Regions from separate parts of the Homo sapiens genome. Here regions 2, 3, 4 and 5 are each linked to region 1. The links come from fine-mapping of genetic effects on gene expression. A gene starts in region 1. Each other region holds a variant in brackets. All regions are shown on one strand. Distances are from middle to middle. Region 1 holds the start of PPP1CC (protein phosphatase 1 catalytic subunit gamma). Region 2 has its middle 19 kb from the start of CCDC63. Region 3 has its middle 20 kb from the start of C12orf76. Region 4 has its middle 29 kb from the start of CCDC63. Region 5 overlaps CCDC63 (coiled-coil domain containing 63).

Evidence for each region.
Region 2: its variant is fine-mapped to the expression of PPP1CC in whole blood (INTERVAL, PIP 0.97).
Region 3: its variant is fine-mapped to the expression of PPP1CC in whole blood (INTERVAL, PIP above 0.99).
Region 4: its variant is fine-mapped to the expression of PPP1CC in transverse colon (GTEx, PIP above 0.99).
Region 5: its variant is fine-mapped to the expression of PPP1CC in whole blood (INTERVAL, PIP above 0.99).

Annotation. Positions count from the first base shown.
Region 1 is chr12:110,740,538-110,745,641 of GRCh38, reverse strand. It overlaps PPP1CC (protein phosphatase 1 catalytic subunit gamma), which reads left to right and starts at 2,751. Exons shown (of 7, transcript NM_002710.4): 1 at 2,751-2,989. The coding sequence starts at 2,935. RefSeq lists enhancers at 1,172-1,756, 2,518-3,026 and silencers at 2,521-2,660, 2,821-2,880.
Region 2 is chr12:110,825,775-110,830,878 of GRCh38, reverse strand. No RefSeq gene overlaps it. Among named protein-coding and RNA genes, the nearest start is that of CCDC63, 19 kb to the left of the region's middle. RefSeq lists an enhancer at 3,891-3,960 and a silencer at 4,141-4,190. The variant G/AAG (reference allele first, on the strand shown) is at 2,629.
Region 3 is chr12:110,065,932-110,071,035 of GRCh38, reverse strand. It overlaps a transcript of C12orf76 not described here. Among named protein-coding and RNA genes, the nearest start is that of C12orf76, 20 kb to the right of the region's middle. RefSeq lists an enhancer at 5,004-5,083. The variant GCCTTCT/T (reference allele first, on the strand shown) is at 2,703.
Region 4 is chr12:110,815,604-110,820,707 of GRCh38, reverse strand. No RefSeq gene overlaps it. Among named protein-coding and RNA genes, the nearest start is that of CCDC63, 29 kb to the left of the region's middle. The variant G/A (reference allele first, on the strand shown) is at 2,043.
Region 5 is chr12:110,874,402-110,879,505 of GRCh38, reverse strand. All of the region lies in intron 5 of CCDC63 (coiled-coil domain containing 63), which reads right to left. Among named protein-coding and RNA genes, the nearest start is that of CCDC63, 30 kb to the right of the region's middle. The variant G/TG (reference allele first, on the strand shown) is at 2,627.

The DNA of each region.
Region 1 (5,104 bases):
CGCCCCCTTGGATGAAACGTGGGCTCAGTTTGCTCCAGTCCCTACCCAGAGGCTGAATTCTTTCGTATTATCAGCCAGGTCCCTTTAGGCACTGGGATCCCCCCTCAAAGCCTAAGTATCCTCAGAGACACTATTGAGTTTCCAATATTTGGCCACAGCCACTCTCTTCTAATCATCAGCTCCCCATCATCTTCAGCAGCCCCTAAGAAAGCTCTGTAGAGCCAGGAAAGACAGTTTGAAAAGTGCACTTTAATCCACTCTCCTCATTTGACAGATAGGCAAACTGAGGCCTAGAGAGGGGAAGGGACATTCCATTTATTAGGCTGTATCCTTTCTGACAGGATGCTTATATCAACTCATCTTTGGAAAGCCACTGGTGCTGATAATGGCAGAAAAAGGCGAATAGGGAATCAGTGCTTTCCTCCACCGGCTATTTGCTGGTTCCTGGGAGCTGTGAGGGCCCACCCTGGTGAGCTATGCCATGCTCAGGCTCAGAGCCAGCTAATCACTTAGGCATGTGCCAGCAGAACTGAACTCTGGAGGGGAGTTGCCCAGCAGAAAACAACCTGGGGACAGAGGCTCTCCCCATGTCCCAGCTCAGTCTGAAGTCCTCCTCCAGCCCTGATGATGTTGCAAGAGGTTAACACACCTGCCATTTTGCATGAGGAAAATTATGGCACTCGTATTGTGGGCAGAGACACAATTCAGTCATTCCACTGGGTTCCAAATTGATATGTGCCCAGTATGTGCCAGGGATGTGAACACTGCTGGGGGTTCACTGCCGGGTTTTACTGAATATGAACGAGGGCTGTGGTTTCAGGCTGTCCTGAGTTCCAGCCCTGACTCTGTAACTTCCTGGCTGTGTGACCTTCAGCAACCACCCTAGCCTCTCTGTGCCTCACTTTCTTCATCTGTAAATGGGGATGATAGGAATAGGACATAATTCCTAGGATTATCTTGGGGATTCAATGAGATCATTTTTTGGCACATACTAAGAAATGAACACAGTAGCATTTTTTTTCTTGTTTATTTTTCTCCACTGCACTTATCAGAAGCTGATATTTTTATTTGCATCTTTGCTTACCATCTGACTGACTAAATGACTCTCCATAGAAAAAAGCCTTGTCTGTCTTGATCACCCCTGCTTCCCTGTCTAGAACAATGCCTGGCACAGAGTGGGTACTCCATAAATATTTGTCTGCTGAATGAATTGCTGTCTTTCATATTTCTACCCTAAATGCCATTCCGATGATGCACCCTGCCCTGGAGTAGCCCAAAGTCCTGTGGACTCCAGCAAGAGCCCCCCCTGACCTCCATAGCCAGATGTTCACAGCAGCGCTGGGCACCAACTCCGAATGTCACCAACTGGGCTCATTGCCTTGGCCTGACAAATGGCACTTATGTGACTTCTGGTGGACAGAGCTGTAGCAGGGGAAAGTGAGTTAGTGCCTGAGGAAAGTGGATCGATAGGCTGAGTTCTGAAACTCAAGGGCCCTGCACCAGTAGCGAGGGGGCCCAAGTAAGGGGACATGGAGCCCGCACCCTGAGGACATTGCTTTGGAAGAGGATGCCTGGGTGGTGCAATTACCTCGTGGCATACTGAGATGGGGATTCGTGCATCCTGCACGCCTTGGGAAACAAAATGAATTTCTCGGAGAGAGGGGGCTTTGCAAAATGTAAAGCGCTGCAGGAAGCAACGTACATGGAAAGGTCAGGAAAGAGAGCCGATCTGTTTGCTGAGTGTGGGCTGTACTTCCAAACCCAGCCAAAGTCGACGCGCAGCCCCTGGAGGTGGCACAGTTTGGGGGCCCCTTGGATAGGAGTGCCCTCGGGGAGGCTGGGAAGCCAGAGAGGAATGGGCCAAAGTTTCTTCGGGTGTCTGCAGAACCCAGGACCGCCCGCGCAGCTTGCATCTTCTCTTCCCGCCCCCGGCCTGCACGCGTGAAATCTGCAAATTCCCCTTTTAACTGCTGCACGCGCTCGTTCAACTTTGCCCTGGCTAGAATCGGGATAACCGTCCCGATGATTACATAACTTTCCGAGTTCAGGGAAGATAAATCCAAGGGACAGAAATGATAAAATTTTCTTTGAGTATGGATTTTTTACCCCTAAAGTTACAGAAGTGCACAAAAAATATATATACAAATACCCATATACCCACCACTCACAATGAGTTAACTGTTACATTTTGACTTATCTGAAAGAGGGTTTTTTCTTTTTAGTTACCAAATAAACCTTTCTCTTGTCCCAAGTTCCAGTATATCTGAATCCAAAATAAGTCAACCTTCTTTTCTTTATTATTCTTTTCCATCCTCACCCCAGATTTATCTTAAAGGGTAAGTTCCAGGACCCCCGAAATCCCTCGGTGAGCTCCCACCTGTCCAGGTCTGCAAACATCTAGACTCAATGCACAAGATCCGGCGATGGCCGCAACCGGCGGTGTGCACAGCTGCATTTCCTCCCCCAGCCCCAACTCCCGCGTGCAACTTTGCAACTCTCGCTCGGGCCCGGCATTGGGGGCGGGCCTATTTACTCGGCCCGTTTGGCGGAAGGATCCCATGCGGGGACGCGGTTGCGCTCAGCCATCTGCGCCCCGCCCAGCGCCCGGGCCCCGCCCCCTCCAGCGCCCGGGCCCCGCCCCCTCCCGCGCCCCCTATGGCCCATAAAGAAGTCCCGGCCGGGCCGCTGCACTCCCCGCGCGCATCCGTGCGCCGCCCGAGGCTGTCTAAGGAGTCGGCGGCCATTTTGTTCTTCTCGTGGTTCCAGTGGGGAGAGAAGGAGGAAGTAGGGAGCGGGGTGGCAGGGGGGGGACCCGCCGCGGCTGCTGCCACCGCCGCCACCACCGCCTCTGCTCGTGGCGTGGGAAAGGAGGTGTGAGTCCCGGGCGCGAGCCGGCGGCGGCGCCGCTGCGGGAGGGTCGGCGGTGGGAAGGCGATGGCGGATTTAGATAAACTCAACATCGACAGCATTATCCAACGGCTGCTGGAAGGTAAGGGGGGCGGCGGGCGGCTGAAGGGGGAGGCGGGCCTGAGGGCGGCAGGCGGCCCCGGGGGCTCGAGGGAGGGGAGTTGGGAGGCCGGTTGGGCTTGCAGCACCGTGGGGAGTGAGCTCCTCGAGTTGGCCCACGGGCCGGGGACTGCAGCCGGAGGGAGGCCAGCCCGGGATTCCCAACTTGTCGCCAGCTGCGGACCCTCCAGGCTCCGCTCATTCATTGCACGAGGATGCAGGCTTCCTCCCGGCCGTGGAATTTGAAAACTCCGCTCCCCACCCCCACGTTTCCCGCCCCTACCCGTTTGCCCCCGCGCACTGGACGGGTCTTTGGAGCGATGGTTGGGGATCCCAGTCCAGCCTCCTGGACGACGTGTGCCGTGCTGTGCGAGATGGACTTTTCGGTGCTCGTCCTCTCGGAAGGCAGTTTGATGAGGGCATGAGTTCCGCCGGGTTTGGGGGCTCTTTTCCTGCTTGCTTTTATTTTTATTTTTCGTGGTTCTGGGGTCTTGGGGGGCCCATTTCTTGTTACTTGGTAACAAGCGTTCATGTCTCAAGAGGTGTGAGAACCTGTCTTCGCCTGCCCTCCAAATCCTTTTAAGTTGTTCTAATCTTGGAGAGGTCTCCGCGCTCTTTTCCTGAGCGTGCATCTGAAGAGGAAGCCAACGAGGCTGACGCTATCATTATCTTTCCAATGTGCCAGGCTCTGTCTTAAGCACTTTGCGTCCATGAATTATTACTGTAATCATAACTGACGCTTCTAAAGCGCTTACTGTGTGTCAGGCATTCTTTGAGCACTTAAGACAGATTTCATTTAATTCTCCCACCCATTGCAAGATATTTGCAATTTTTTTTGTTTTTGTTATTTTACAGAAGAAACTGAGATGAAGTCACTTAACCAAGGTCACACAGTTAGTGACAGTTGGATTTCAAATCCACATAGCCGGGAGCTAGAACCCTCTACAGACAACACTGTCACCTTATGTAGGAAGGAAGGTGGCCAGTGGTTAAGTAAAGGTTAATAGAAAGCTTTAAATTTCGGCTCATCTAAGACTTGTGAGGTGCCTGGCAATTGATTCATGTTGATGTGGGAGAGGGGCGAGGTTCAGCTTTTAAAGACGGAAGCTGAAATGAGCTGCTTTCAGATTCAAGGGCATGTCAACGGATGCTAACATCTTATCCAAGACTTTGTAAGAATTCAGTCATATCCCCTAACTTGGACACTTCATAATGGGAACTTGGCAGTTTCAACTGCTTTTTGCCTTTATACAGTCCTAAAATATTGTTGGACTATAAATGCTGTGAGTGGTGGAGTCGAGGGCATGAACAGTTGGACAGCTCTGGTGTTAGAATTTACAGATCTTTTAAAGTAAGTTATTAAAATGAAGCTCCTGAAAATATCTCGTCCTTTTCTTAATCTGTGCATTCTTTCCTTTTATGCTGTCTTTAAAAAAAAAACAACAAAAAAAACACTAAATGTCATTAAGGACCCCTGAAATGCTCTTGAAATGTTATTGCAGGTGAAAACCTTGTATTGTAGGTGAAAACCTTGTCATTCTTTTAATGCCAGGTATTTATATAAGAACCATACTTTTTCATACTAGTTAATATAGTTCTTTAATTTATTCGAGGCAGCAGTTGGTCAGAAACTGATTAAAATAGTTTGCTGTAAGAAAGGAACTTTTTGTTAAATATTTTCTTTCTAAATTTTAAAATTCTGCTTATCTCTGCAGGGATATGTGTGGCTTTATTTCTCTGAGGAAACAGGAAAAGTTGGAATTTGCATGGATTAGAAACATTAGAATTTTAAGATCATCTAAGGCTTGCTAATTTAAGTTCTGGTTTGCCCATAACTGCCTCTATTCATAAACAGCTTTTGTTAATTTTGATCTTTAAAATTGTAATAAGTACTTTGCCTGGTAAGTAATGATACATCTAAAATGAGATCATTGTTTCTTAATAGTTCCTCTTGTTATGTGGCACTTGAAAACCAGGTTTTCTTATATTTCATTTTTTGCTGAAATTAATAAAGCAGTGCATTTTAATGCCTTGGGAATAGGCTAACTGCAAAGTATACTTAAATTTCTTTTTTTCTCGTGGGTGTTAAATTGGCAGA
Region 2 (5,104 bases), 85 kb before region 1:
CACCATGTTGGCCAGGCTGGTCTTGAACTCTGACCTCAAGTGATCCGCCTGCCTCTGCCTCCCAAAGTGCTGGGATTACAGACATGAGCCACCACGCCCAGCCCAGCACTCATTATGTGACATCTTTGTACCTCAGTTTCCCCATCTGTAGAATGGGAGTAATAACCATATCTACGTCATAACGTTTTGTTAATATTTAACATATTAAGGTGTTTTGGAACTGCCTGAGTGTTTGGCATTAATAGGATTATGAAAATTTGGATTTCCAGATTCACTTTCCTCGAAAGATTAGAAGATCTGGCAACAAAAAGGGTTACATTCTTATTTACCTAATTTATTTAGCAAATGTTATAAATAATGCCTTTTTTCTTTGAAACAGGGTCTCACTCTGTCACCAGGCTGGCATGTGGTGGCGTGATCACAGCTCACTGTAGCCTTGAACTTCCAGGCTCAGGTTATCTTCCCTCCTCAGCTTCCTGAGTACCTTGGACCACAGGCATGCGCCACCATGCCCGGCTAATTTTTTTTTTTTTTTTTTTTAAGTAGAGACAGTGTCTCCCTAGGTTACCAGGCTGGTCCCGAACTCCTGAGCTCAAGTGATCCTCCCACCTCGGCCTCCCAAAGTGCTGGATTATGGGTGCGAGCCACCCCGCCTGGCATATAATACTTTTTACTATGCACCACACACTGTTCTAAGCACTTGCAGAACTTTCACCCACTCAGCCCTCAGAACAACTCTGTGAGATGGGTTCTGTTTTTTTTGTTTGTTTTTGAGTGGGTGTCACTCTGTCACCCAGGCTAGAGTGCAATGGCATGATCTCGGCTCACTGCAACCTCCGCCTCCCGGGTTCAAACGATTTTGCTGCCTCAGCCACCCAAGTAGCTGGGATTACAGATGTATACCACCACGCCTGGCTAATTTTTTTTTTTTTTTTTTTTTTTTTGTATTTTAAGTAGAGACAGGGTTTCACCATGTTGGCCAGGCCAGTCTTGAACTTCTGACCTCAGGTGATCCACCCATCTCAGCCTCCTAAAGAGCTGGGATTACAGGTGTGAGCCACTGCACCCGGCCAAGATGGGTTCTGCTATTGTTCAGTTTTACAGATGAGAAAACTGAGGCACAAGGAGGTGAAGTGACTTGTCCAGTGTCACACGACGAGTAAAGGGCAGAACCAGGATCTGAACCCCAAATGTCTGACTCTAGGCATGACGGTCAGCTAGCACTGGGTCTTAATTAACCCCTCGAGGAGGGCATGGACTCCCCACTTCGCCCCAGCTCCCGCCCCAATTTCCTATTTCCATTCCTCCCAGGCCCCTTTGAGCTCTGTGTTTTCTTCCCTCACATACTGGGTGCTCAAGCACAATGACAGCCTTGCCAAAAGATACCCAGGGAACACGCTTCAGGTCACGCTGGCCCCGGAGCTGGGAATTTAGCCTGAGGTCTAAATCCAACTTTCATTTTCTGAGTCCCACGCTTTCTCAAAAAGCCATCCTCTCCTCAGACAGAATTAGATTAATCTCCTTATCCAATAGCTCAGGATCAGGCGGACAGTCGGGTCACCTGCTTCAGCCCGGCCAGACCTGATTACCCTCTGTGACCCCAAAATTCACTCATGCGCACCTGCCCCTGACACGTTTGCTGATTAATAACGGCAGGGAGTTTGGGGATGGTGCGTTTTTCACCTTCTGGGAGCATCAGTGGCTTGAACACAAAGGCCACCTGAGGAAGAGCTGTAGTTAAACACCCATGGCCTCAGCCCTTGGCCCCCTCCCCCCAGCCACCCACCCTGCCCAGAATCTGTGCCCTTTTAAACTTCCACCAAATTCCATACAATTTAATGTCCCAGAAAATAAAAGCTGATCAAATCAATAGTCATCAAACTAAAAAAACTTGAGAGCTGCCAGCATGTTCTGAAATTATTCTGTTTGGGCTGGGCGTGGTGGCTCATGCCCGTAATCCCAGCACTTTGAAAGGCCAAGGTGGGTGGATCACTTGCGGTCAGGATTTCGAGACCAGCCTGGCCAACATAATGAAACCCCATCTCTACTAAAAATACAAAAATTGGCCAGGCACGGTGGCTCACACCTTAATCCCAGCACTTTGGGAGGCCGAGGCAGGTGGATCGCTTGAGGTCAGAAGTTTGAGACCAGCCTGGCCAACATGGTGAAATCCCATCTCTAATAAAAATACAACAATTAGCCAGGCATGGTGGTGCGTGCCTGTAATCCCAGCTACTTGGGAGGCTGAGGCAGGAGAATTGCTTGAACCTGGGAGGCGGAGGTTGCAGTGAGCAGAGACCGTGCCACTGCACTTCAGCCTGGGCAACAGAGTGAGACTCCATCTCAAAAAACAAAACAAAACAAAACACAAAAATTAGCCAGGCATGGTGGGCACCTGTAGTCCCAGCTACTCGGAAGGCTGAGACAGGAGAATCACTTGAACCCGGGAGGCGGAGGTTGCAGTTAGCCAAGATCATGCCATTGCACTCCAGCCTGGGCGACAGAACAAGACTCCGTCTCAAAAAAAGAAAGAAAGAAAGAGAGAGAGAGAGAAAGAAAGAAAAAAAAGAAAGAAAGAAAGAGAAAGAAAGAAAGAAAGAAAGAAAGAAAGAAAGAAAGAAAAGAAAA[G/AAG]AAAAGAAAAGAAAAGAAAAGAAAAGAAAAAAGAAAAGAAAAGAAAAGAAAAGAAAAGAAAAAAGGAAAAGGAAAAGGAAAGAAAAGAAAAGAAAAGAAAAATTATCCTGTTCAGGGCTGTGTAAGGACCCGCTGTTGTCTTTTTCCGCCTTCTTGTAAGAGCACATCAATTTCCCTCTGGAGGGTCATTCCATCTCCCGGCGCTCAGTCCATGAGGTTGTGGAGGCTGCCCCGCGCTGTCAGATGCAGGTAGCTATTCCTCTATTGAGAGCTCCTATCAGGGAGCCCCTCTCTCACAGCTTCTGATCTCAGACTCCAGAACAGTCTTTCCCCTGCACTTGCCAGTCCCAGGCACTTCGCCATCCCTGCTGGCTCTCCCCATCCTGCCCACACACTCGCTTGTCACTCCCATGTGACTGTCTCCAGGGGACCCTAACTGATACATCTGGAGACCCAGCAGTCCTTTTGGGAGCTGAGCACGCCTCCCACCACTCCCTACATTGTTTGCCCGGCTCCCTTTACTTCTTTGCCTCTGGGCCAAGGCCTCCTGGGCTTTTCCCTTTTATTGAAAATGCCCTGGGGGCCAGCGTGGTGGTTCACACCTGTAATCCCAACACTTTGGGAGGCTGAGGTGGGTGGATCACTTGAGGTCAGGAGTTCGAGACCAGCCTGGCCAACATGGTGAAACCCCGTCTCTACTAAAAATACAAAAATTAGCTGGGCATGGTGGCATGCACCTGTAGTCCCAGCTACTCTGAAGGCTGAGGCAGGAGAATCGCTTGAACCAGAGAGGTGGAGGTTGCAGTGAGCTGAGATCCTGCTAACTGCACTCTAGCCTGGGCGACAGAATGAGACTTCGTCTTAAAAAAAATTATTTTTAATTTAAAAAGTTTAAAAAAGAAAGAAAGAAAGAAAATGCTCCGGGGAGGGCTGTCACCTCTCTCTCTTAGGATTTCCCCTCTCACACTTAACTTCAAGTGGGGGCAATCTCCCAGCAAGCCTCCTCCTCACTGTTCTGATTTTTACGCTCAGCCCTCCCTGCCCGAGTGGCCACCACACTCAAGGGAGTGTCCTAGAGATTTTTGCAGGCGTGAGCTCATTTGTTGCACACTCTTGTGGGAAGAGCCACGTGAGGAGGTTACACAGCTGAAGCGGTCTCCCGACATTCAAGCAGTCACGGATGCTGAACTGTTGCAGATGTGGTAAATTGGTAGTAGGCAGGAGGGCATGCTGGTTATAGGCTTGGGCGGTGGAGGCAGACAGACCTGATCTCAAATCCCACCTCTGCGATGTGACTCGGGCAAGTGGTTTAACCTCTCCCGGCCTCTGTTTCATGATCCAGTCTGCCATGTTGCACAATTCCAGGAAACGCCATTCATGTTGGTGCACCAGGGGGCGCCACTTACACAGACAATACAGTGAACGCCATCCCCAGGGTCCTGTAAGGCGGTGGTGCTGACAACACTGCCTCCCTCAGTCAGGGCTCCACATGTCAAGAGTAGGCACTCAGCAATCATCCCAATAGCCTTCTCCTCATTTTACAAAAGAGGAAACTGAGGTTCAGAGAGGTCACATGATATGCCCCAGGTCACAGGTCAAATAAATGACTGAGCCAGAATTTGAATACAAAATTTCTTTCACGCTGGGCAAGGATGGCTTATGCCTGTAATCCCAGCACTTTGGGATGTCGAGGTGGGAGGATTGCTTGAGCCCAGGAGTTCAAGACCAGCCTGGGAAACATAGTGAGACCCCATCTCTACAAAAAATTTTAAAAATTAGCTGGGTGTGGTGGCACACACCTGTGGTCCCAGCTATTCAGGAGGCTGAGGTGGGAGAATCACTTGAGCCCAGGAAATTGAGGCTGCAGTGAACCATGATCACTGACACTGCACTCCAGCTTGGGTGACAGAGTAAGACCCTGTCTCTAAAGACAAAAAAACAGGCCGGGTGTGGTGGCTCATGCCTGTAATCCCAGCATTTTGGGAGGCCAAGGCAGGCAGATCACTTGAGGTCAGGTGTTCAAGACCAGCCTGGCCAACATGGTAAAACCCTGTCTCTGCTAAAAATACAAAAATTAGCCCAGCATAGTGGCACATGCCTGTAATCCCAGCTACTCGGGAGGCTGAGACAGGAGAATTGCTTGGACCTGGGGCGTGGAGGCTGCAGTGAGCTGATATCACACCACTGCACTCCAGCCTGGGTGACAGAGTGAGACTCTGTCTTAAAAAAAAAAAAAAAAGAAAGAAAAGAAAAGAAAAAGAAACAAACAAAAAATCAAAAATTTTATTTAATCCAGGGCCTGTGCACTCTCTAGCCTGCTGTTCTATCTCCAGAGATCTTCAGTTTGGGTGGATGCAACACCACACACATCTTCACAGCCACAGTCCATCCCTTCCCTCTCAGAGCACCTCTGCCATCACCAAAGAGTTTTCCTTGAACTGTAAGTTGTTGTCTCTCCCTCCCTCTTTTCCCTCTG
Region 3 (5,104 bases), 670 kb after region 1:
TGGGAGGCCAAGGCAGGCAAATCACCTAAGGTCAGGAGTTTGAGACCAGCCTGGCCAACATGGTGGAACTCCGTCTTTACTAAAAATACAAAAGCTAGTTGGGCGGGGTAGTGTGTGTCTATAATTCCAGCTACTCGGTAAGCTGAGGCACAAGAATTGCTTGAATCTGGGAGGTGGAGGTTGCAGTGAGCTGAGATCATGCCACTTCATTCCAGCCTGAATGACAGAGCAAGACTCCATCTCAAAAACAAAAACAAAAACAAAACAAAACATGCTGAAATCGAAAACAAGACATATTACTTAGAGCAGCTATCATAGGACCAATGGAAAAGAGCATAATTAGTAAATGCCCCCTTCTGCATTAATACAGGGATTACATGTCATAATTCCATGTAGCAGGTGATGGGACTTCCTGACATTCCTGGGCCCAGCATACAATTTCTTTCTTTCTTACTTTTTTCTCTAAAAAGTGAGAGAGGGTCACACTATGTCACTAGGCTGGAGTGCAGTGGCGTGATCACAGCTCACTGCAGCCTCAACTTCTCAGGCTCATGTGATCCTCCTGCCTCATCCTCCCAAGTAGCTGGGACCATAGGCACATGCCATGACGCCTGGCTAATTTTTTATTGTTTTTGTAGAGACAGGGCTTTCCTTATGTTGCCCAGGCTGGTCTCAAACTCCTGGCCTCAGGCAATCCTCCTATCTTGGCCTCCCAAAGTGCTGGGATTATAGGTGTGAACCACCGTTCCTGACCTACAATTTCTTTTCTTTTCTTTTTCTTTTTCTTTTTTTTTTTTTGAAATGGGGTCTTACTCTGTCACCTAGGCTGGAGTGCAATGGCATGATCTTGGCTCACTGCAAGCTCTGCTTCCCAGGTTCAAGCAGTCTTCCCACCTCAACCTCCTGAGTAGCTGGAACCACCACGCCCAGCTAATTTTTTTGTATTTTTGGTAGAGACAGGGTTTCACCGTGTTGTCCAGGCTGGTCTTGAACTCCTGAGCTCAAGCAGTCCATCCATCTTGGCCTCCCAAAGTGCTGGGATTACAGTGTGAGCCACCATGCCCAGCCCACAATTTTTTAAAAGCAGATCATTGTATATATAAAAACATTACTATGAGAACACCTTATAATGATGAATATTTTTCTTTCACATGATGAAATCATAACTTACATGTATTTAACTCCCTCAAATTCAGTTATACATGTTCCATGGGGACATGGAGAGAGAGAATAATATAACTAGTACAATTATTCAGCAACTGGGTTCCCTGGAGTAAGTGTGAAATGGGATACTTGCATCTGGGGGTTCCCTCCATCATTCTCTGTTCTCATGTGCTTCTCACAGAGTGAGCATCTTGCTGCTCTGCCTTTAAATCTAGGTACATAATTTTCAGCCACATGACCCCTAAAATAAGCCAATTCCTTCACCTTCACCTGGAGCAAAACTGTAATAACAGCAACTTGTTCCGGAGCTAGAAATTGGCTCCAGTGGACCCACTGGGAAGAAGGAGTTGTTTGCTGTGCTATGTGGACAATTTAAGGGTTTAAAAGGCAATTTTGATAAGCCATGGGTTTTTTTGTTTGTTTGTTTGTTTTGAGACGGAGTCTCGCTGTGTCACCCAGGCTGGAGTGCGATGGTGTGATCTCGGCTCATTGCAAGCTCCGCCTCCCGGGTTCCGGCCATTCTCCTGTCTCAGCCTCCCGGGTAGCTGGGACTACAGGCGCCCGCCACCATGTCCCGCTAATTTTTTGTATTTTTAGTAGAGACAGGGTTTCACCATGATAGCCAGGATGGTCACGATCTCCTGACCTCGTGATCCGCCCGCCTTGGCCTCCCAAAATGCTGGGATTACAGGCGTGAGGCACCGTGCCTGGCGATGAGCCATGATTTTTATCTGAAGTGCCGTCTTTAGAAGATAACCTCCATGTAAAACGTTTCTCCACAGTTTATATTTTAAAATATAAAATTGAAGAAAAAACTATTGCCAGTTTGCTTTTTTCCTCTTTGTTAATGGACTATCTACTATCATCTCACCAAATGGAGTCTCACAGTACACAGCTTGGGAAATGCTGCCTTAAGTTGCAGTGTGAAGCCTTAAGTTTATGTAACCATGACTTAGCCATCTGTGTAGCGGGTATACCAATGGGGTGTAGGGATTGGCGGAAGTAGTTTGCACCAAGTAGTACTGGTGTGGACCATAGGTGGCAATCCAGACAGGCTAGAGCAATGTTCAGGTTACAGTAGCAAGTGGCAGGTTTTGGCCAGCTGTCCCTACTGGGGCTGGAAGGATAAAGAGCCAGAATAAGGAGACAGGGCCTCAGTTACTGAAACTGGGATAGAAACTGGGGACTGGTTATGGGGGAAATTAAACAAGAACCTGTCCAGCTTCTTCTATTCTCACAACTAAGTTCAGATCTGGAGTCAGAGGCAGGGATGCAGCTACAAGAGGAGTTAGCGTTGCAGGTTTATGTAGATAGGATGCTAAGCAGGTCTATGTTAGCCAGGATTGTTTGCGCAGTAAGTGACAGAAACCCAGCTTACGTTAACCACAAAGCCTCAAAGGGGAATTTATTGAATCATGTAACTGGGCAGTTGAAGAGATTGTGCTGTCCTTGGACATGGATGAAGATAAGGGTTCACACTATGTCATCAGGTAGGTTCTCTCTCCCTACGTCTTGGTTCCATTTGCTTCTATTTGGCC[GCCTTCT/T]TCTTCTTCTTCTTCTTCTTCTTCTTCTTCTTCTTCTTCTTCTTCTTCTTCTTCTTCTTCTTCTTCTTCTTCTTCTTCTTTCTTCTTCTTCTTCTCTTCTCCTTCTCCTTCTTCTTCTTTTTTGAGACGGAGTTTCCCTCTTGTTGCCTAGGCTGGAGTGCAATGGCGCGATCTTGGCTCGCCACAACCTCTGCCTCCCGGGTTCAAACGATTCTCCTGCCTCAGCCTCCTGAGTAGCTGGCATGCCCCACTACGCCCAGCTAATTTTTTGTATTTTTAGTAGAGACAGGGTTTAACCATGTTGGTCAGGCTGGTCTCAAACTCCCGACCTCAGGTGATCCGCCTGCCTCAGCCTCCCAAAGTGCTGGGATTACAGGCGTGAGCCACCGCACCCGGCCTTTGGCTTCCTTCTTGAACAGCTCTCTATGTAGCATGAAATCCTTACATTCTCTTCTTAGCAACCTCAGAGGAGCCAACAAGTCTTTCCTGATGCTCTGTTAGGAAAGTCCCGGGAAAGACTCTGATTGGTTGGGTGTGAATTACATATCCATCCCTGAACCAATCACCGCCTGGGCCAAGGTGTCATCCCATTGGCCAGTCTGGGTCATGTGCTGGTTCCTGTGGCAGGAAATAGGGAGAAGATGACTGAGCCGGCCGGGTGCAGTGGCTCACCCCTGTAATCCCAATACTTTGAGAGGCCGAGGTGGGTGGATCACCTGAGGTCTGGAGTTCGAGAAGATGACGGAGCAGTGTGAGCCCTACTGAACCACATCCAGTGGATTTTCCTTAGGAAGGAAGATCCTGTTACCAGACAAAATGGGAAAAGGAAGTGAGGAGGGTAGGCAGACAAAATACAGTGATCTGTTACAAGGTCTTCCCAAAAGCCAGAAATTCCAGGGATTTCTGAAGTCTACTTCTCTAGTCCTGGCTTGTCTGGGCTGTGGAGACTCTATCTAGGTAATTGTTGAGCTCCTATTCTTACCTTGGTTCCTTCCTCAGTCCCACCAGAAGACCTGCTCATTTGGGATGTGCGACTTGGCCCACAGAGGCTGCCAGCTCACCTTGGTACTTAACTACTATTTGTTTTCTGTGACCACCAAGCTATTGCTTAAACCAAGCCGCTTACGATGGCACCACCTAGGAGAATTCTTTAGATTTTATTCCGAGTGAGTTGAGAAGCCATGGGAAGATTGTAAGCAAAGGAATAAAAGATGGTTGCATTCTCTTGGGAAGATTTCCCTCTTCCCTGGAGAACAGTCCTCACAGAAGCTTTTCCAATGGCCACAGACTAGGGAAGGTTGAGAGAGGGACAGGAGAACAAACTCCACTCACAGGTGCTGCTTCTCCTCTGCCCAGTTAGCCTCCACTGGGGCCAATAGTGAGCCTGTGTTCTCATTCGTGGTCCCAGGCTGGCCGTCGCCATGGAGATGGTGTTGCTGTACCAGTTCGTGGCTATTAAAATGGAGCTCCTGGCTGGACACCTATTTCCCAGTGGGTGGCCACACACCTGTGGGTCTGGGCCTCCTCCAGCTGAATAGAAGTGAGCCCAGCACGGAGGTCGGGGAGGCACCAGACACCAGGAGGAGCAAATCCAACTCAAGCGTGGCCCCTCTGCTCCCGATTTTTTTTTTCTTTTTTTGAGACAGAGTTTTGCTCTTGTTGCCCAGGCTGAAGTGAAATGGCGCGATCTTGGCTCACGGCAACCTCCGCCTCCCGGGTTCAAGCGATTCTCTTGCTTCAGCCTCCCGAGTTAGCTGGGATTACAGGCATGCGCCACCACGCCCTACTAATTTTGTATTTTTAGTAGAGATGGGGTTTCTCCATGTTGGTCAGGCTGGTCTCAAACTCCCGACCTCAGGTGATCTGCTGGCCTCGGCCTCCCAAAGTGCTGGGATTACAGGCGTGAGCCACCGCGCCCAGCCGTTTTTTTTTTTTTTTTTTTTTTTTTTTTTTTTTTTTTAGATGGAGTCTTGCTTTGTCACCTAGGCTGGAGTGCAGTGACATGATCTTGGCTCACTGCAACCCCTGCCCCCTGGATTCACGTGATTCTGCCTCAGCCTCCCGAGTAGATGGGACTACAGGCGTGTGCCACCACACCAGGCTAATTTTTGTAATTTTAGTAGAGATAGGGCTTCGCCATGTTGGCCAGGCTGGTCTTGAACTCCTGGCCTCAAGTGATCCGCCTGCCTCGGCCTCCCAAATTGTGAGCTACCGCGCCCGGCCTGCCCCTGACCATCTTCGGGGAAATAGAAACATGAGGTCTGCCACATTCTCATCCCACCCTTGACACCTAGGTGATGTGAGAGCTTGAGGGGGAGGTCAGAAGGTCAGAGATGACCCAGTTCTGGAGGTGACCCCATAGAAGGAGAAGAATCCAGCCACGTGATACACGGGAC
Region 4 (5,104 bases), 75 kb before region 1:
AGGAGGGGACTGGGGAGAGGGGAGGAGGAGGGGGAGGGAGGGAGAGGGGGAAAGGAAGGGGAGAGGAGAGGGAGAAGAAGAAAGAAGAAGAGGAGGGGGAGAGGAGGAGGGAGGGGGAAGGAGGGGGAAAGGGAAGGGGAGGGGAACGGGGAGAAGAAGAAGAAGGAGAAGTAGAAGGAGAAGAAGAAGGAGGAGGAGGAGGAGGAAAAAGGAAGAATAAAGAAGGAAGAAGCTTATTTCTTTCTTAACTAGGCCTGGTTATGGTGGTCAATGGTATCCTCCCAGCCAGATGCACCTCCATTCAGGGCACTCCTACGTCGCAGTTCAAGATGGTGGCCTTCAAGTTCCAGATGCCAGAATAAAAGAAGGGATGAAGAAGCAGTGACCTCTTAGAGAGAGTGTTTCAGAACCACTGCGGGACTCTTCCCCCGACATCCTTAGCCCATACCAGAGTCCCATGGCCACACTTACCCACAAAGGAGGCTGGGAATTCTGGACAGCCATGTTCCCTAGTAAAATTGGATTTCTTTTACTTTGAAAGAGGGAAAAAAATGGATGTTGGGAACATGGAGCAGTCTTTGCCACAGTTCTGTAGGCCTCGGTGTCCTCTTCTGTGATCTGTGGGTAACAATAGTTTCACCTCACAAGGTCGTTGCAAGAATGAATTGAGTTAATGGGTATAAAGAGCTTACTAAGTGGGCAGTGAATATTAGTAATTATGATGATGATTAGTAGAACATCTTGACAGCAAATTAGCAGGAGGAAAAAGAAGTCACTGTTTTCTGTGCCAAGGAAGGGTGTGACCAGGTGAAATCGGGCTCGTTGATTTGGTAAATGTGGGCACCTCCCTAATGACAGGGAACCGCCCAGAGAAAACATTCAAGACCAGCTTTAATGCCCAGAGAGCAGTCAAAGGTAAATTCGTATCTCCCTTTGTATCCAAGAATCGAGTCAATGTCCTCAGGGACAATTTGTGCTGCTAAGGGAGCCAAAGGTGGCCCTTGAATTAACTCACACAATTCATTTGCTTCTCAAATCTTGTTCCCAGGGCCTGGGTGAAGCAGGCCCTGGGCTCCCTTGATAGTAAGTGGGGCTGGGGAGTGAGTGGTTGCTGTCAGTTGAAGGGACCACAGGACAGGGCTGGAATCTTGAGTCTTTCCAGGGGGTGTCTGGTGCTCTCGTCCACTGAACTTGGACAGAAAATCCTCTTCTTAGGAGCAGACAAAATTTTTCTTGGGAGAGAAAAAAAGTTTTTTGTTATCATCTTTTCTGATTTCAAGATTAGCAATTTGTCTAGCAAAATCCCAACAAACTAACATGTATCCAACAGGCCTTGTGAGAGGGATGTGAACCAGAGCAACTCCATCTTGAATAGGGGCTGAGTAAAATGAGGCTGAGACCTACCGGGCTGCATTCCTAGATGGTTAAGGTATTCTAAGTCACAGGATGAGATAGGAGGTAGGCAGATACAGGTCATAAAGACCTGGCTGATAAAACAGTTTGCAATAAAGAAGCCGGCTAAAACCCACCAAAACCAAGATGGCAACAAGACTTGACCTCTGGTCGTCCTCACTGCTACGCTCCCACCAGCATCATGACAGTTTATAAATGCCATGACAATGTCAGGAAGTTACCGTATATGATCTAAAAAGGGGAGGCATGAATAATCCACCCCTTGTTTAGCATATCATCAAGAAATAACCATAAAAATAGGGCCACTAACAGCCCTCAGGGCTGCTCTGTCTATGGAGTAGCCATTCTTTTATCCCTTACTTTCCTAATAAACTTGCTTTCACTTTACTCTATGGACTCACTCGACTTCTTTCTTCCGAGAGATCCAAGAACCCTCTCTTGGAGTCTGGATCGGGACCCCTTTCCAGTAACAGCCTCAGGAGCGTCCTGGAATTCCACTGGGGGTTTCTCAAGATGTAGTGTGCACCAGGGCCTTGTTAAAAATGCAGGTGTCACCATGAGTTGCTAATCATTGACATGAACAATGGGTGTACAAAGGTTAATTATAATATTCTGAGCCAAGGAAGGTG[G/A]CTCATGCCTATAATTCCAGCAGTTTGGGAAGCTGAGGCAAGAGGATCTCTTGAGCCTAGGAATTCAAGAACAGCCCTGGCAACATAGCAAGACCCCGTCTCTACAAAAGAAATTAGAAAATTAGCTGGGTGCAGTAGTGCACACCCATAGTCTGAGCTACTCAGGTGGCTGAGGTGGGAGGATCCCATGAGCCCAGGTGTTTGAGGTGACTGAGCCATGATCGTGCCACTGCACTCCAGCCTAGGTAAAAGAGGGAGACCATGTCTCAAGAAAATAAAAAAATAGGCCAGGTGCAGTGGCTCATGCCTGTAATCCCAGCACTTTGGAAGGCCAAGGCAGATGGAGCACTTGAGGTCAGGAGTTCAAGACCAGCCTGGCCAACATGGTTAAACCCCATCTCTACTAAAAATACAAAAAATTAGTGGAGCATGGTGGCACATGCCTGCAGTCCCAGCTACTCGGGAGGCTGAGACAGGAGGATCACTTGAATCTAGGAGGCAGAGGTTGCAGTGAGCTGAGATGGTGCCACTGTACTCCAGCCTGGGCGACAGAGCAAGACTCTGTCTTAAAAGAAAAGAAACAAAATAAAAAATTGTGGCCGGGCATGGTGGCTCATGCCAGCACTTTGGGAGGCCGTGTTTTTTAACATTTTATAAGCATTTTATAAGCATTAATTCATTTAATTCTCACAATAACCCTATGAGATAGGTACTATTATTAATCCTATTTTACAGATATGGAAAGTGCTAGAAATGGAAAAAATAGGAGGATAAAAACAAACACCTGGCCGGGCGCGGTGGCTCACGCCTGTAATCCCAGCACTTTGGGAGGCCAAGGCGGGCAGATCATGAGGTCAGGAGATCTAGACCATCCTTGCTAACACTGTGAAACCCCATCTCTACTAAAAATACAAAGAATTAGCCGGGCGTGGTGGTGGGCGCCTGTAGTGGGTGGCTCATCCCAGCACTTTGGGAGGCCGAGGCGGGTGGATCACAAGGTCGGGAGATCGAGACCACCCTGGCTAACACGGTGAAACCCCGTCTCTACTAAAAATACAAAAACAAAAGTTAGCCAGGTGTGGTGGCGGGCGCCTGTAGTCCCAGCTACTCGGGAGGCTGAGGCAGGAGAATGGCGTGAACCTGGGAGGCGGAGCTTGGAGTGAGCCGAGATCGCGCCACTGCACTGCAGCCTGGGCGACAGAGCGAGACTCCATCTCAATTTAGAAAAAAAGGTAACATTCTCTCTACTTTCATGTATGTTCAACATTTTCTATAACAAAAGGTTTTTAATTTAAAAAAATATATTTAATACAGGTAGCAGAACCCAGCCCCAAAAACTTCTCAATCTGTAGCTCAGGGTGGAAAAGGAATCTTTTCATGCCCACTTGTTTCAACACAGTTAGAAAAAAACACTTAGATTGGATTCATTACGTACTAGATCTGTTGGAAGTGCTTTATAAATAGGAAGATAATCTCATACCTGCATGTCATTATTGCACCATTTTACAGATGAGGAAACTGAGGCATACATAGGTGAAGTGATTTGCCCTCTTCTCACAGCTAGCAAGTGGCAAGGCTAGGATATGAACCCAGGCAGCCAGGCTCAGAAACGAAGTTCCACCCTCTATCTCCTCTGCCTCTTACAGTTCTGTGAGCAACCTCTATTGACATTCTAACTAGCTCCTTTCAGACTTTTTAAAACTCTCTTGTTTTCACATTCATCTATATCTGCATAAAGATTGTAGGAAGAACAGGCTGGGCACAGTCCAGCCTCTGGTCCTTTGTTCCTCTGGTCCTTTTGTTACTTGGGCTTGGAAAGTTGGGACTTTCCTTTTGATTTAGTTCTAGGAAGTCAGCATGAACTGACCTTAGTTTCCCTGCCTGCAGACGCTATTCTCCTGCCTCAGTGTCAGCAACGAATTCCTAGTGGATTTTACCTGGCTATCTCAGGTATCCCAGAATATCCCAGAGCATCCCAGGAAGAAGCACCTCCTTGAGTTTAAAATACTCACATACCATCCACCTCCCCATCCCAGTCACTGTCTAACCCTCTTCCCCTGCTTTGCTTGTTTCCATTGCTGTTATTTTTCTCTGCTATTATATATTCATTTGTTATTGTTTACTTACCTGCTGTCTGTCACTCCCTGTAGCACATGAGCTTCATGATGGCAGGGACCTTGTCTCCTGTTTTCCTTGCTACAGTACAGCCCTGGCACCTTGCCCAGCAACTGACACACACTAGGTGCTCAATAAAGCACTGAGTGCGTGTGTGAGTCAATGAGAAGTTGGGATATGAGGACAGCTTATGTCTGTGAGCTGGGCCCAGGCTGGCCCTCCCAGAGATGATGTTTCACAAAGGTCTCAGCTCAATCCTGAAATATAAAGACTCAGAATTCTCAAGGCCAGATGGTGTTAACCGCCTTCTGAAAGTGTCTGAAGGCCAGGCAGAGTCAGGGAGAGGTCTCCATTTGGCTGCAGAGGACAAAGAAGTAAAATAATTCAGCAGAGACCAGCTCAGTTGCACCAGATGAGATCCAGGCAGCAAGGGAAGGAGGGAATTCGCCAAAGATGCTCCATTTCCTCAGTCACACACACATGGGTTGTCCAACAGGTGAGATGACAATGATGATGATGATGATAGCTAACATTAATGTAATGAAATATTTACCAGATGCTGCTCTGAGCTCTTTAATACATTCATTCATTTAACCCTCACAACATTACCTCTGAGGCAGGTAATGTGGTTATCCCCATCTTACAGAAGGATAAGTTAAGGCACAGAGCGGTTAGGGAACTTGCCAGAGTGACAAGGCTTGGAAGTAGCTGAGCAGGAATTGGACCAGGTGACCCTGGGCATGTGTCAGAGCAAAACATCTCACTGTCACCTACCACCCACCCAAAAATGCCCCAAACGTTTCAGGTCCCAAAACCAGGGCCAGGCTGACACAATACTGCCCTCTTGTATCATGAATTCCCATTCAGACCACATATTTGCCTTCATGCTGCAGAGGCAGGGTAGTGGCTACAGCCTGAGCCTAGGGTCTCAATGTTTTCTCGGCTGT
Region 5 (5,104 bases), 130 kb before region 1:
TGGGTGGGGCTGTTTTCATGCAGGGTTTCTCAAACTCAGCACTACTGGCATTTTGGGCTGGATGATTCTTTGCTATAGGGGGCTGTCCTATGCTTTGTGGGATATTAAATACCCACTACATGCAGGTAGCACCCTCACCTCCAACTCTGTTATGACAACCAACAGTGTCTCCTTTTGGGGACAACGTCCCTTTGGAGGCAAAATCACCCTCAATTGAGAGCCACTGTTCTAGATTAAAGAAATTTAAGAGACCTAACAATTATGTGAACCTTGACTGGATCTACCTTTAAAAGACATTTTAGGGCCAACCAGGTACGTGTTAATATGGACTAGGTATTGTGTAATATTATGGAAATATTATTCATTTTGTAGGGTGTAATACTGGTCTTATGACTGTGAAAGAAAAAGTTTAATTTTAAAATATGCAAACTGAAGTATTTAGGGGTGAAATGTCGTGACACTTGTAATTCACCTTTAAATACTTCAGGGGAAAAATGGTGAAGCAAATAAAGCAAATGTTAACAGTTATTAAATCAAAGTGATAGATTTGCTCATTATTTTATTCCCTCTACTTTCCTGTATGTCTTATAAATTGTCTTAGCTTTTTTAAAAGTTGTTTTTTAAAGGCGATGTGATTGGTTACACTGTTCATGGGAATGTAGATTGGTGCAGCCATTATGGAATAAAAGGATGAAGGTTTCTAAAGAAGTTAAAAATAGAACTACCATATGACCCAGCAATCCCTCTCCTGGGCATACACCCAAAGGAAATAAAATCACCACCTCGTAAGGGCATCTGCAGTCTCACATTCACTGCAGCATTATTCACAACAGCCAAGATTTGGAAACAACCTAAGTATTCACTGACAGATGAATGGATGAAGAAAGTGGGGGCTGGGCACAGTGGCTCACACCTGTAATCCCAGCACTTTGGGAGGCCAAGGCGGGTGGATCACCTGAGGTCAGGAGTTCAAGACCAGCCTGGCCAACATGGTGAAACCCCGTCTCAACTAAAAATACAAAAATTAGCCAGGCATGATGGCAGGTGTCTGTAATCCCAGCTACTCAGGAGGCTGAGGCAAGAGAATCATTTGAACCTGGGAGGCAGAGGTTTCAGTGAGCCGAGATCACGCCACTGCACTCCAGCCTGGGCAACAGAGTGAGACTTTGTTTCAAAAACAAGAAATTGGGGTGTGTGAGTGTGTATATATATGCACATACTTATATGTGTGTATATATGTATGTGTATATGTATGTATACATGTGTGTATACATATATGCATATAGGTATATATATGTATGTATATGTGGATACATATGTGTGTGTGTGCATATATATACACAATAAAATATTACTGAGCCTTAAAAAAGGAGACTCTGCCATTTGCCACAACATGGATGAAACTGGAGGACATTACGCTAAGTGAAATAAGCCAGACGCAGAATGAAAAATATTGCATGATCTCATTTATATGTGGACTCTAAACAAAAAAAAGTCAAGGCTGGGCGCAGTGGCTCATGCCTGTAATCCCAGCACTTTGGGAGGCTGAGGCGGGTGGATCACCTGAGATCAGGAGTTCGAGACCAGTCTGGCCAACATGGTGAAACCCCATCTCTACTAAAAATACAAAAATTAGCCAGGCATGTTGGTGGGCACCTGTAATCCCCAGCTACTTGGTAGGCTGAGTCAGGAGAATCGCTTGAACCTGGGAGGCAGAGGTTGAAGTGAGCCGAGATTACGCCACTGCACCCTAGCCTGGGTGACAGCATGAGACTCAGTCTCAAAAAAAAAAAAAAAGAAAGAAAGAAAGTCAAATATACAGAGATAGAGAATAAAACAGTGGTTACCAGGGCAGAGGGGGTGAGGGGGAAAGGGAGCAGGGAGATGGAGGTCAGAGGATAGCAAGTAGCAGATATGGAGAATGAGCAAGTCTAGAGCCCTAAGGTACAACATCAGGACTCCAGGGACTCTAATTGTACTGTATTTGGGGCTAGGCGCAGTGGCTCATGCCTGTAATCACAACACTTCGGGAGGCCAAGATGGGTGGATCACCTGAGTGAGGTCAGGCGTTTGAGACCAGCCTGACCAACATGGTGAAACCCTGTCTCTACTAAAAATACAAAAAATTAGCTGGGTGTGGTGGCGCACACCTGTAGTCCCAGCTACTCGGGAGGCTGAGGCAGGAGGATTGCTTGAACCTGGGAGGTGAAGGTTGTAGTGAGCCAAGATCGTGCCATTGCACTCCAGCCTGGGGGACAGAGCCAGACTCCGTCTCAAAAAAAAAAAAAAAAATTGTACTGTATTTGGGATTCCTGCTAATGTGCAGATTTTAGAGGTTCTTGTCACAAAAACAAAAATGGGTAACTATGTGAGATAACAGATATGTTAACTTGCTTCACTATTGTAACCACTTTAATATCTACATGTATCAAATAATATATTATATACCTTAAATATACACAGTAGAATTTATTTTTTATTTTTATGAAACAGGGTCTCGCTCTGTCAACCAGGCTGGAATAAAATGGTGCAATCACAGGCTCAAGTGATCCTCCCACCTCAGCCTACCGAGCAGCTAGGACTACAGGTGCAGGCCACAACACTCAGCTATTTTTTTTTTTTTTTT[G/TG]TATTTTTAGTAGAGACAGAGTTTCACCATGTTGCCCAGGCTGGTCTCAAACTCCTGGCCTCAAATGATCCTCCCACCTCAGCCTCCCAAAGTGCTTGGATTATAGATGTGAGCCACCACATCTGGTTTATTTTTTTTTAATAAAATTATTTTTTAAGTTTTTTTAAAAGACCACGTAAAGTGCTCCCATAAGCACTGAAAAGAGACAACTACAAAAAAATATTCCTAACAGCAAGGGGATTTAATTTCACTGGAGGTTTTCAAAGTATGTTCTAAGAAACATTCGGTTTCTGCAGGGCCAACACTGGGGTAAAGCAAGTGAAGCAACCGGGGCATGAAATGTAAGGAGGCACTCACTCTCAGGTGCCAGCCCTGTGTTTCCACAAGCCTGAGCAGAAGAGCCTCCTAAAATGTTGCATCCTGGGCTTTTTGCTTGCTTCTGCTAGTCTGAGCTCTGGGTGTTCCTGAGTGTCTCCATAGCCACCACACAAGGTAGGGGAGTCCCTGGGAGCAGAGCATTCTTATTCTATCTTTGCATCCTCCACTTCCTCTTGGGAAGTTATCAGTTACCACTCATTTGCTCCTTACTGTGAATTTTGCTCCAGGACCGTAGCATACTATCTATCCTCTGATTGTGGGGGGGAAAGACCTGACCTATGGGGAGGACTCTCAGGCCCCACTGAGTAGGTGGAGGATATTTAGGACCATGGGGTACTCTGAGACCCCAAAATTGCCTTTAGAGATGGCTGCCTAACCTTTTTTTTTTTTTTTTTTGAGACAGGTTCTCACTCTGTCATCCAGACTGGAGTACAGTGGCACAATCTCGGCTCACTGCAAACTCCGCCTCCTAGATTCAAGCAATTCTCCTGCCTCAGCCTCCAAAATAGCTGGGATTACAGGCATGCATCACCATGCCTGGCTAATTTTTATTTTTATTTTTTTGTATTTTTAGTAGAGGCAGGGTTTCACCATGGTGGCCAGGCTGACCTCAAACTCCTGACCTCAAGTGATCCACACACCCTGGCCTCCCAAAGTGCTGGGATTACAGGCGTGAGCCACCGCGCCAGGTCAGCTGCTTAACCTATTAAAAGGCACAATCACATCTCGTTAGGGATGAAGGGAAGAGGGGACCAGTTTGAGATACAAAAAACAGACCTCTCAGAAATATAAAAAGGAGCATTACTACAGATCTTATGGAAAAAGTATAAGGGATATACTAGGAACAACTATATACCAACAGATTAGCATAATTTAGATGAAATAGACCAATTCCTAGAAAGACATAAACTACTGAAATTGACTCGAGAAGAATAGAACATCTGAATAGACTTAGAACAAAAAAGCAGACCTCTGAGGCTGCAGTGAGCCACGATCGTGCCACTGCACTCCAGCCTAGGTGACAGAGTGAGACTCCGTCTCAAAAAAAAAAAAAATTATACCTATAGACAAGTCATCATTAAATCATGCATGCATTTAGTAACTCATTCAATCAACAGACATTTGCTGAGGCATTAAACACCATGCCAGGCATTAAATCTATGATTCTTAACCAATGGGACCTTCAGTCTCTCTGGGTTTGCTAATAACGGTGCAGATGCCCAAATCTAAGCCCTGGAGGTTCTGATTTGGTGAATCTGGAGGAAATCCAAAAATCTGTATTTTTAACCCATATCCTAGGAATTCTGAGGCACAGTTGCAAATCACTGGGCATGGATATTAAAAAGACACTGCCCAGTCCTTCAGCAGCAACTTGGGGAGGCAGACAGAGATCAGATCCAATTAGCTCCCACCATGCCTGCTCAAAGCCTGGTGGTCAAAGTCTGGGGGAAGCTAAGAGCTTTGTTTAGTGAAGGAATGACAGGCTTTCTTCCAAATCCATTCACTTTCTCTCTCTAGTAGCTCATGTGGGAGCTACAGTTTCACAAACCAGACTGGAATGTGTGGTTTGTCCCTGTCCATCATTCCTTCTCCACTCTTTTTGCTTTTCCAGGGGAACCACCTCTCCTCTAATCCACTTATTTTGAATAGGGCTGCCCTTCCCTGACTTGGGGTAGCAGTGGGTGGGTTTGGAGGAGAGGGGCCCCAGGGTAGCCATGTGACTCAGGCCCATGTATTTCATTCTTCTGACCACCCACCCTGATTGGTTCAGAAATGGGCACATGACCCAAGCTGGCCCAGTGGGAACTCTCCCCAGAATACGTCATTAAACTCTTAGGAAAAAGATGTTTCATTTCTACTAGCATTCGTTCACACTGGGGGCTACCCAAAAATGAAATCCACTCAGAGGAGAGGTGGACAGAGAATATGTCCTAAAGACATGTATGGAGCACCTGGATCCAGCTATGCCTGAAGGCCCCACTTCCTCCTCTGGATCTTTCAATTCTATGACTAACACATTCCCCTTTTTTTCTTAAGCCAGATTGCAATTTAAGGAACCCTGCTTAATGCAAAAGTCACTGTAGATTGAGGATGATCAGT